Homo sapiens: one gene and its partner. The protein of the gene in region 1 purifies or fractionates together with the protein of each later gene. This does not show direct contact. Each region holds a gene or a part of one and is shown in the gene's direction. Other genes may lie near its edges. The genes, in order: PGM5 and PGM3.

Region 1 (4,570 bases):
TAATTAAATCCAGAGAATTAATAGATTCATCACCTCAAAACCTATCTTTTTTGTGGTGAGAACATTTGAAATTTATTGTCTTAGCAATTTTGAAATACACAATACTTCATTGTTAACTACAGTCACCATGCTGTGCTGTAGATCTCAACAAAATATATTCCTCCTGTCTCAACTAAAACATTGTACTCTTTGACAACATTTCCCCATTCCTCTCACCCCCTCCAAAAACACCCATTCTTTATGTTGAAGAGAATGGCTAAAAAGTCCCAGCAGGTTTCAACAGACGGCTTCAGTGGTTGTCCCATCACACTTCAATGTTATTAATAAAAAGGGGAGGGGCAATACATAATTCGGACAGGCTGAAAGTACCATTGTAACCACTTTCTTGACTTCACAGAAAAAGTCCTCTTGTTTTCATCTGTAAAATGGGAACTGCATGAATACCATTCTTCTTTTCTTCAGCCTCCAAAGAAAAAACAGATGCAAAGCCTTTAATCAATTGCAAAACAGTATACAATGTGTGTTATTACTCACAGTTGTCTTACTGTGACCAAACACTTTATAAGCCTGCGGCAAGTCAGCCTTACTCTCAGTAAGTGGACAATATTTGGGGAAGGAGAAGCAGCAGGATATTTCAGGACAGTAGCCTTGGTGGGTCCAAAAATTCCTTGAGAGAAATGGGAGATAGAACTTTCTTCCTGCTTTGGGTTTTATCCTGTTAGTCTTTTCTCTCTTCACTCCTATTTTCTATGGAGAATTTCCTGGTTTTGGAGTTTGGGTGCGTTTTATGGAGAGGAGGCAGAAAATCTTTAGCTCCAGCAGAATGAAAGGATACATGCAAAGGAACCTAGCACAGTATCTGGTACCCAGGTCTCCTTTAACTTGGCTTTATTCATTCACTCCTGGTAGGGCATTAATAAGGGATTTAGCCCCCTCCTATTGAAAACGATTAATTCAAGGAAGAGTTCAGACAGTGTGGACAGATACAGTGTAGGAAAGCCTATTTCTAAGGCAGGAGCTGGGTAGGGAGGGTGAGAAGGGCGAGAAGAATAGGGAAATATGTGTCGTCTGTGTTGCTGCTGTTGCAACCACCACAACAAACAAACAAGTGAAAAAAAAAAAAAAAAAAAAAAAGAATTGTCCATACCGGAAAGTGTGCTGTTTTGGAGGAGGCTGGGGAAAGTGTGGATGGCTCGAGTGGGTCCTGTTGGATTGAAGTCTGACAGTGGTGATTCCCTTCAACAAATGGTCGGGGTGGGAGGGTACACACACACACACACACACACACACACACCCCACACGCAGCGCCCAGCCTCCGATTTCAGCGCTGGCAGGAGATAACCATTCTTAGCTCGCCTTTCCAGGGTTATTTTTGGCTGAGGCTGTTCGCTGATGGCAAAAGGTTTCAGCCCCCTCCCAAATCCCTCCCCGTCCTTGTTCTAAAGAGAAACTGGTGTGTGTAGGCTGCGCACTCCCAGGGAGACAGGGAGACGGGCCGGGCGCCGGAGAGGAACCCGGACTCTGCCCAAAGTCTCGCCGCCCGCCGGCTGTTTTCTGGCGGAGGGTGTGCCCCGGAGGGCGGCGATCGCGGGTGAAGGCTGGGGCCAGGCGCGGGTGGAGGCGTCACCGGGGTCGGGCTAGCAGGCCCTGGAATCAGGCTTTTGGGACACCCCGAAAGTGAGTCCAACTTGGGGAGAAACTGAGGGCAGCTCGGGCGGTCTGGCAGCGGAGAAGGTGGGTGGGAGAAAACTTTACAGGAAGGCAGAAGCAATCTCTGCCGAGAGAGTCAGCCGAGCGGCCGCGCGGAGAGGAGGGGCGGGCGGTCCCCAGGCGGGCGGGTGCAGGGCGCAGGGCGCCGACCTGCTGGAGAGGGGGCCCGGGCGCGAGGCGGAGTCCCGGCGCGCAGCCAGGCTGGTGGAGGCCCCCGGCAGGCTGCAGATTCCCTCCGGCTCCGGGAGCCGCAGCAGGACCGGCCAGGAGGCGCCATGGAGGGGAGCCCCATCCCGGTGCTGACAGTGCCCACCGCGCCCTACGAGGACCAGCGGCCGGCCGGCGGCGGGGGTCTGCGGCGACCCACCGGCCTCTTCGAGGGCCAGCGCAACTACCTGCCCAACTTTATCCAGAGCGTGCTGTCGTCCATCGACCTGCGCGACCGTCAGGGCTGCACCATGGTGGTGGGCAGCGACGGCAGGTACTTTAGCAGGACGGCCATCGAGATCGTGGTGCAGATGGCCGCGGCCAACGGGGTGAGTGTCCGGATGCCCCTCGCTTCCCGCCGCGCCGCCGCCATGCCCTCTCCTAGCCCTTGTCCCCCTGCTGCCTCCGGGCCCAGTTGGGAGGCCCCTGCCCGGCCCCGGCTTTGCTACCTCACTCCCGCGTCCTCACCCTCCAGCGCCCCACTCCCGCCGCGCTCGCAGCCTCCCCGGTGCACCCCGGACACTGGGTTCTATTAGTACCCACCGCCCCCAAAAGCCTTGAGGGGTTTCCGTCGTTCCTGGAGCCACTCCGGGCGCCCTGGACTCTTCTCCGACTCTGCGCACATCCCGCACCTGCTCATTTTTCTTTCGGACATTCTCTTACCCGGCCCTGTAGATTCCAAGGCAGCTCCCAGTTTTCCATATTGTTCCCAACGCATTCACTGCCCACAGTCCCCACACAAACTTCTTTCGCAGGCTCACAACATAGTCCCTCTGCCCCGTGCCCTTTTTGCAATAATCTGCCAGTCCCCTAAGTCTTAGCTCTGCCTATTTAACAGTAGTGGTGTCTCAGAACACACACACACACACACACACACACACACACACACACACACACACACACACGATCCCTGACATATTTGGCAAGAGTAGGCCCTGAAGGTTTTTATTATTTTGGTTCTTTAACCCAGTGGAATTACTGAATGATTTATTTAATTAGGGTAGGGATGGAGTGGATCCATTTGTTTGATGCTAAACAGCCTGAGCTCGCAGTTCCCAGGGGGCATATCTCTAAATGGTCTGAAATGAGATTTGCAGTGGTTTTCTTAATGCAATTCCCAACTTCTCTCCAAATGCCTTTTGGCATTTGACAACATTTCATGCCTCTTCCCCTTTCGGTTTTCATCCTTGTTTTCTCTCCCTTCTCCCACGACCTCGGTAGTCTTCTGCAATCCAGATTCTCAGACTTCAGGTTTTTCTCCCTCTGCCCCTTTCCTCTCTGTCCTATAACTAGAAGCACCTTTTGGCATAGACCCATATCCCAGTTTCCTCTTTCCCAGGTCCAGCAGCATCTCAAGGACATCTACAAGAGGGATACCTAATTTCAGGGGTCTCTGAATTATATGTGGGAAACATCGTCTAAAAAAGTAATTTTATCCTTATTCATGCAACCAGACCCACACTCATAGAACTTTTCTTTAAGGAAAGTGTCTTGCAGATGTATAAATGAGTGTTAACATCTTTAAAAGCGAAACTGAACAATTCCCTGGCATTTGAATTCCCTCCTTCCTTCCCAACCCTCTCCTTTTCATTTTCTCATTTATTATTAAAAACATTTTTAAAGGATCTCCATGCTTCATATTTATCTACTATAATTCCTCCTTCTCGGTGTTGCAGGGATGGGGAAAGAGGATTTTTTTAAAAACATAATAAAACGCAATTGGGAGAAACAGGGCCAGTGGTGTTGGGGTGGGTAGTGGAATTGTGATTTTTGACTCCAGTAGACAATGATGCTGGATATATGGGGTTTGATTTATCTCTGGCTCCTCACTTGGGATTGATGAAGTTTGGCTAGAATCAGGGAGTTGAAGAGAGGTTGACAAATGGTCTTTCACTCTTCTCTGACAGGCTGTTCCTGTGGAGTGATGGAGAATAACGAGCCTTGGGAGAGCTATGGGAGCTCTCATACTTCTTCCCGAGCCAATTTTTTAGGGAGTGAGAGAAACATGGCCTGTCCAATACTTGTTGTGGGTCAGGATATTTTTGAAGCTACGGTTGTTGATTTGCATGGGAAAATTATTATGTCTTATTATTTCTTGTCCCACTTTACCATAAGGACTCCTCAGCTTCTTACTTCAATGGGTCTTCTATGACAAACACACTTTATTAACTCTAAGAGTGGAATTTATTTTAACAGATAATTAGCATAGGTCAATATATGCTTAAAATAGGGTCAAATTAAACCTACTAGCTGTTATAAAGGACAGATGACAAATTAAAATCCACATAGAAGCATCGACTCTTAAATAATCTGAAAGTACTACTTCTAAGAGGGGTGGGCATGGGTGAAGGGAATGGTGGACATGTTTCAGAATTTCAAACAGCCAACTTTAACCAATCTTTTCCTCATTTTGTTCACCTTCTTGGGGGCTTATGCTAAAGTGAAGTGAATAGCCATAAGGCTGGCTTCAGGAGAAAGGTGGTCTAAAAGAACTGGATAATTATAAGCAAAATTGGTCTTGAATGATTGAAAATTGATGAGAATGTGCTTGTCTCCTGATTTGGCATCCTGAATTAGACTCAGGAATACTGAACTTGGATCCCAAAGGCTTTGGTCTTTTTTGATATCCTATTGGATACTCATAAGCAGGCTA
Region 2 (2,770 bases), on another chromosome or scaffold:
TTCATTGTTTACCTAATAATTTAATATCACTAGTTTCCTAGTGGGTCAAGCAGATGCAAAATCCAGCTTATTTTCTTCTATGTGCTCTCAAGCTTATTGCTTATTTTAAAGTAAAATCCTGAAAAAGGAAAATATTAGGTTGGTGCAAACGTAATTGCGGTTTTTGCATTGTTGAAATTTGCCGTTTTATATTGGAGTACATTCTTAAATAAATGTGGTTATGTTATACATCATTTTAAGCATATTTCTCACTTTTTTTTTGCTAATGACTTATTGCTGTTTATATTTATTTTAGACTATGGAAATGATGTTAGACAAAAATCAAATTTAGCGATTTTCTGAGTTCAAAATAGGTTATAAAGCAGCAGAGACAACACACAACATCAACAATGCATTTGGCCCAGGAACTGCTAATGAACATACAGTGCCGTGATGGCTCAAGAAGTTTTGCAAAGGAGACTAGAGCCTTGAAGATGAGGAGTGCAGTGGCCAGTCATCGGAAATTGATAATGACCAATTGAGAACATCATCGAAGCTGATCCTCTTACAACTATAAGAGAGCTGCCCAAGAACTCAATGTTGACCATTTTATGGTCGTTCGGCATTTGAAGCAAATTGAAAAGGTGAAAAAGCTCAATAAATGGGTGCCTCATGAGCTGAGTGAAAAATAAAAAAATTCGTTGTTTTGAAGTGTCATTTTCTCTATTCTATGCAACAATAATGAATCATTTCTCTATCGGATTGTGATGTGTGCCAAAAGGTGGATTTTATACGACAACTGGCGATGACCAGCTCAGTGGCTGGACTGAAAGAAGCTCCAAAGCACTTCCCAAAGCCAAACTTGCTCCAAAAAATGGTCATGGTCATTGTTTGGTGGTTTGCTGCCAGTCTGATCCACTACAGCTTTCTGAATCCAGGTGAAACCATTACATCTGATAAGTATGCTCAGCAAATCAATGAGATGCACCAAAAACTGCAATGCCTGCAGCCGGCATTGGCCACCAGAAAGGGCCCAATTCTTTTCACGACAACACTGGGCCGCACGTTGCACAACCAACGCTTCGAAAATTGAACTAATTGGGCTATGAAGTTTTGCCTCATCTGCCATATTCACCTGACCTCTTGCCAACAAACTACCACTTCTTTAGGCATCTCAGCAACGTTTTGCAGGGAAATTGCTTCCACAACTAGCAGGACACAGAAAATGCTTTCCAAGAGTTCGTCAAATTTGGAAGCATGGATTTTTATGCTACAGGAGTAAACAAACTTATTTCTCATTGGCAAAAATGTGTTGATTGTAATGGTTCCTATTTTAATTAATAAAGATTTGTGTGAACCTAGTTATAATGACTTAAAATTCATGGTCCCAAACAGCAATTACTTTTGCACCAAACTAAAAATATAAGTTAAAATGGAAGAGTCTAGGAGCAAACCAAGAAAAGATCACCTACTTCATCATCTCTGGTCAAAAACAAACCAAAAAACTTAACAGCTATCACTTAAGTTTGCTTCCTAGCAATTATTTAGCTTCCAGTCTAGATTACAGGATATATAAAACTTTCTTTCTTTCTTTCTTAACTATGACACTGGCACCAATGAGAGTCCTGTGACTGACTTTCACATTTCCACCATTACTCAATTACTGGTACCATACCACCTCTAATCCCCTAAATCAAACTGCAATTCAACAATAAAGGGCGTACAGAGATGACTTTGTCCTGAAGGAAAATGAATATCCTTGTACCCTCTATATAGCTAACTTCCAAATGTAAGAGAACTATGGGGTAACCTTTTGTTTCTATTCCTATCAAGATGAGCCTTTAAGAGAGGGACTTTTATTAAGCTCTTGACCAAGAAGAATACACTTGATTCAGAGTTTCTGATGCTCTTAATCAGAACTATATGTATTGTCTCAATATTAAATAAAGTCAAATGTTTCCATACAAATGATTTCTCCTTTGACTTCACCAGTCCACACTTGAAAAAAGACTTCCTTCCTGTTTACCTCCCTTGTACTTGTTGACATTCAGACCTGGGTTTGTGTCTCAATATTTGGCAACTTTTGCTGCCATATCATAAGCATGAAACAGCCACCCTCACCTGATGCTTGGCCATCTCCAATCCCTCCAAAATCACTGTCTTAAAGTCCTCCTCCTTGTCCTGTGGAAGGAAAGAGGAGAACTCACAGCCTTTGTTCCAGTGAAAAGTATGCTTGGCCATGAAGACCTTGTTTAAGGTGATTTGGATGGGAAGATGCCTTTCAATCAAAATAGTTTTCTTATTCTGTGGGACAAATTTTGGGCAAAAGACTGTCATATTTATTATTTAGATAAAGGAGGGGGGTCTTATAAAAATTCTCATTACTAATGAAAGGCAGGCATAACAGAAAAGGACATGTGCCTGGGGTCATATTTGCTTCTGGATTTGTCATGATTACTTGCCCAAACTCTGAGATATCAAATTGAAAGTACCAAAGTCCTACCCTGAACTCAGGACCCAGCATACATCCTCATCTCTGTCCTTTTATTAAGCCCCTACAGAAGCAACTAGGAATTTAAGTCAAGTTTTCTCATGTAAATTCCTTCCAGCAAAATCTCTTTAATCACTTTCTTCATTCCATTTTTATAGTTATGGAATTCAGTTTAAGAGCTGCTGCCTGATTAGGAGGACTCCAGAAGACTGGAAAATTTCTGAGCACTCAAAGCACACACTGCATACTAGATCTCACCAGACAACCTAGATCACTCCCAAATTGTACAATTTGATTTTG

What was found.
Region 2: the proteins of PGM5 (region 1) and PGM3 fractionate together in Homo sapiens (co-fractionation; one large-scale study listed by BioGRID). This does not show direct contact.

The regions. Positions count from the first base shown.
Region 1 is NC_000009.12:68,355,143-68,359,712, forward strand, and holds the start of PGM5 (phosphoglucomutase-like protein 5), read left to right. Parts: upstream 1-1,468; 5' UTR 1,469-1,985; coding exon 1,986-2,246; intron 2,247-2,460; exon of another isoform or gene 2,461-2,724; intron 2,725-4,570. UniProt on the Homo sapiens protein: Component of adherens-type cell-cell and cell-matrix junctions. Has no phosphoglucomutase activity in vitro.
Region 2 is NC_000006.12:83,164,050-83,166,819, reverse strand, and holds the end of PGM3 (phosphoacetylglucosamine mutase), read left to right. Parts: 3' UTR 1-353; coding exon of another isoform or gene 354-433; 3' UTR 434-1,947; downstream 1,948-2,770. Other genes in the region: protein DOP1A, read right to left, coding at 2,101-2,160. UniProt on the Homo sapiens protein: Catalyzes the conversion of GlcNAc-6-P into GlcNAc-1-P during the synthesis of uridine diphosphate/UDP-GlcNAc, a sugar nucleotide critical to multiple glycosylation pathways including protein N- and O-glycosylation.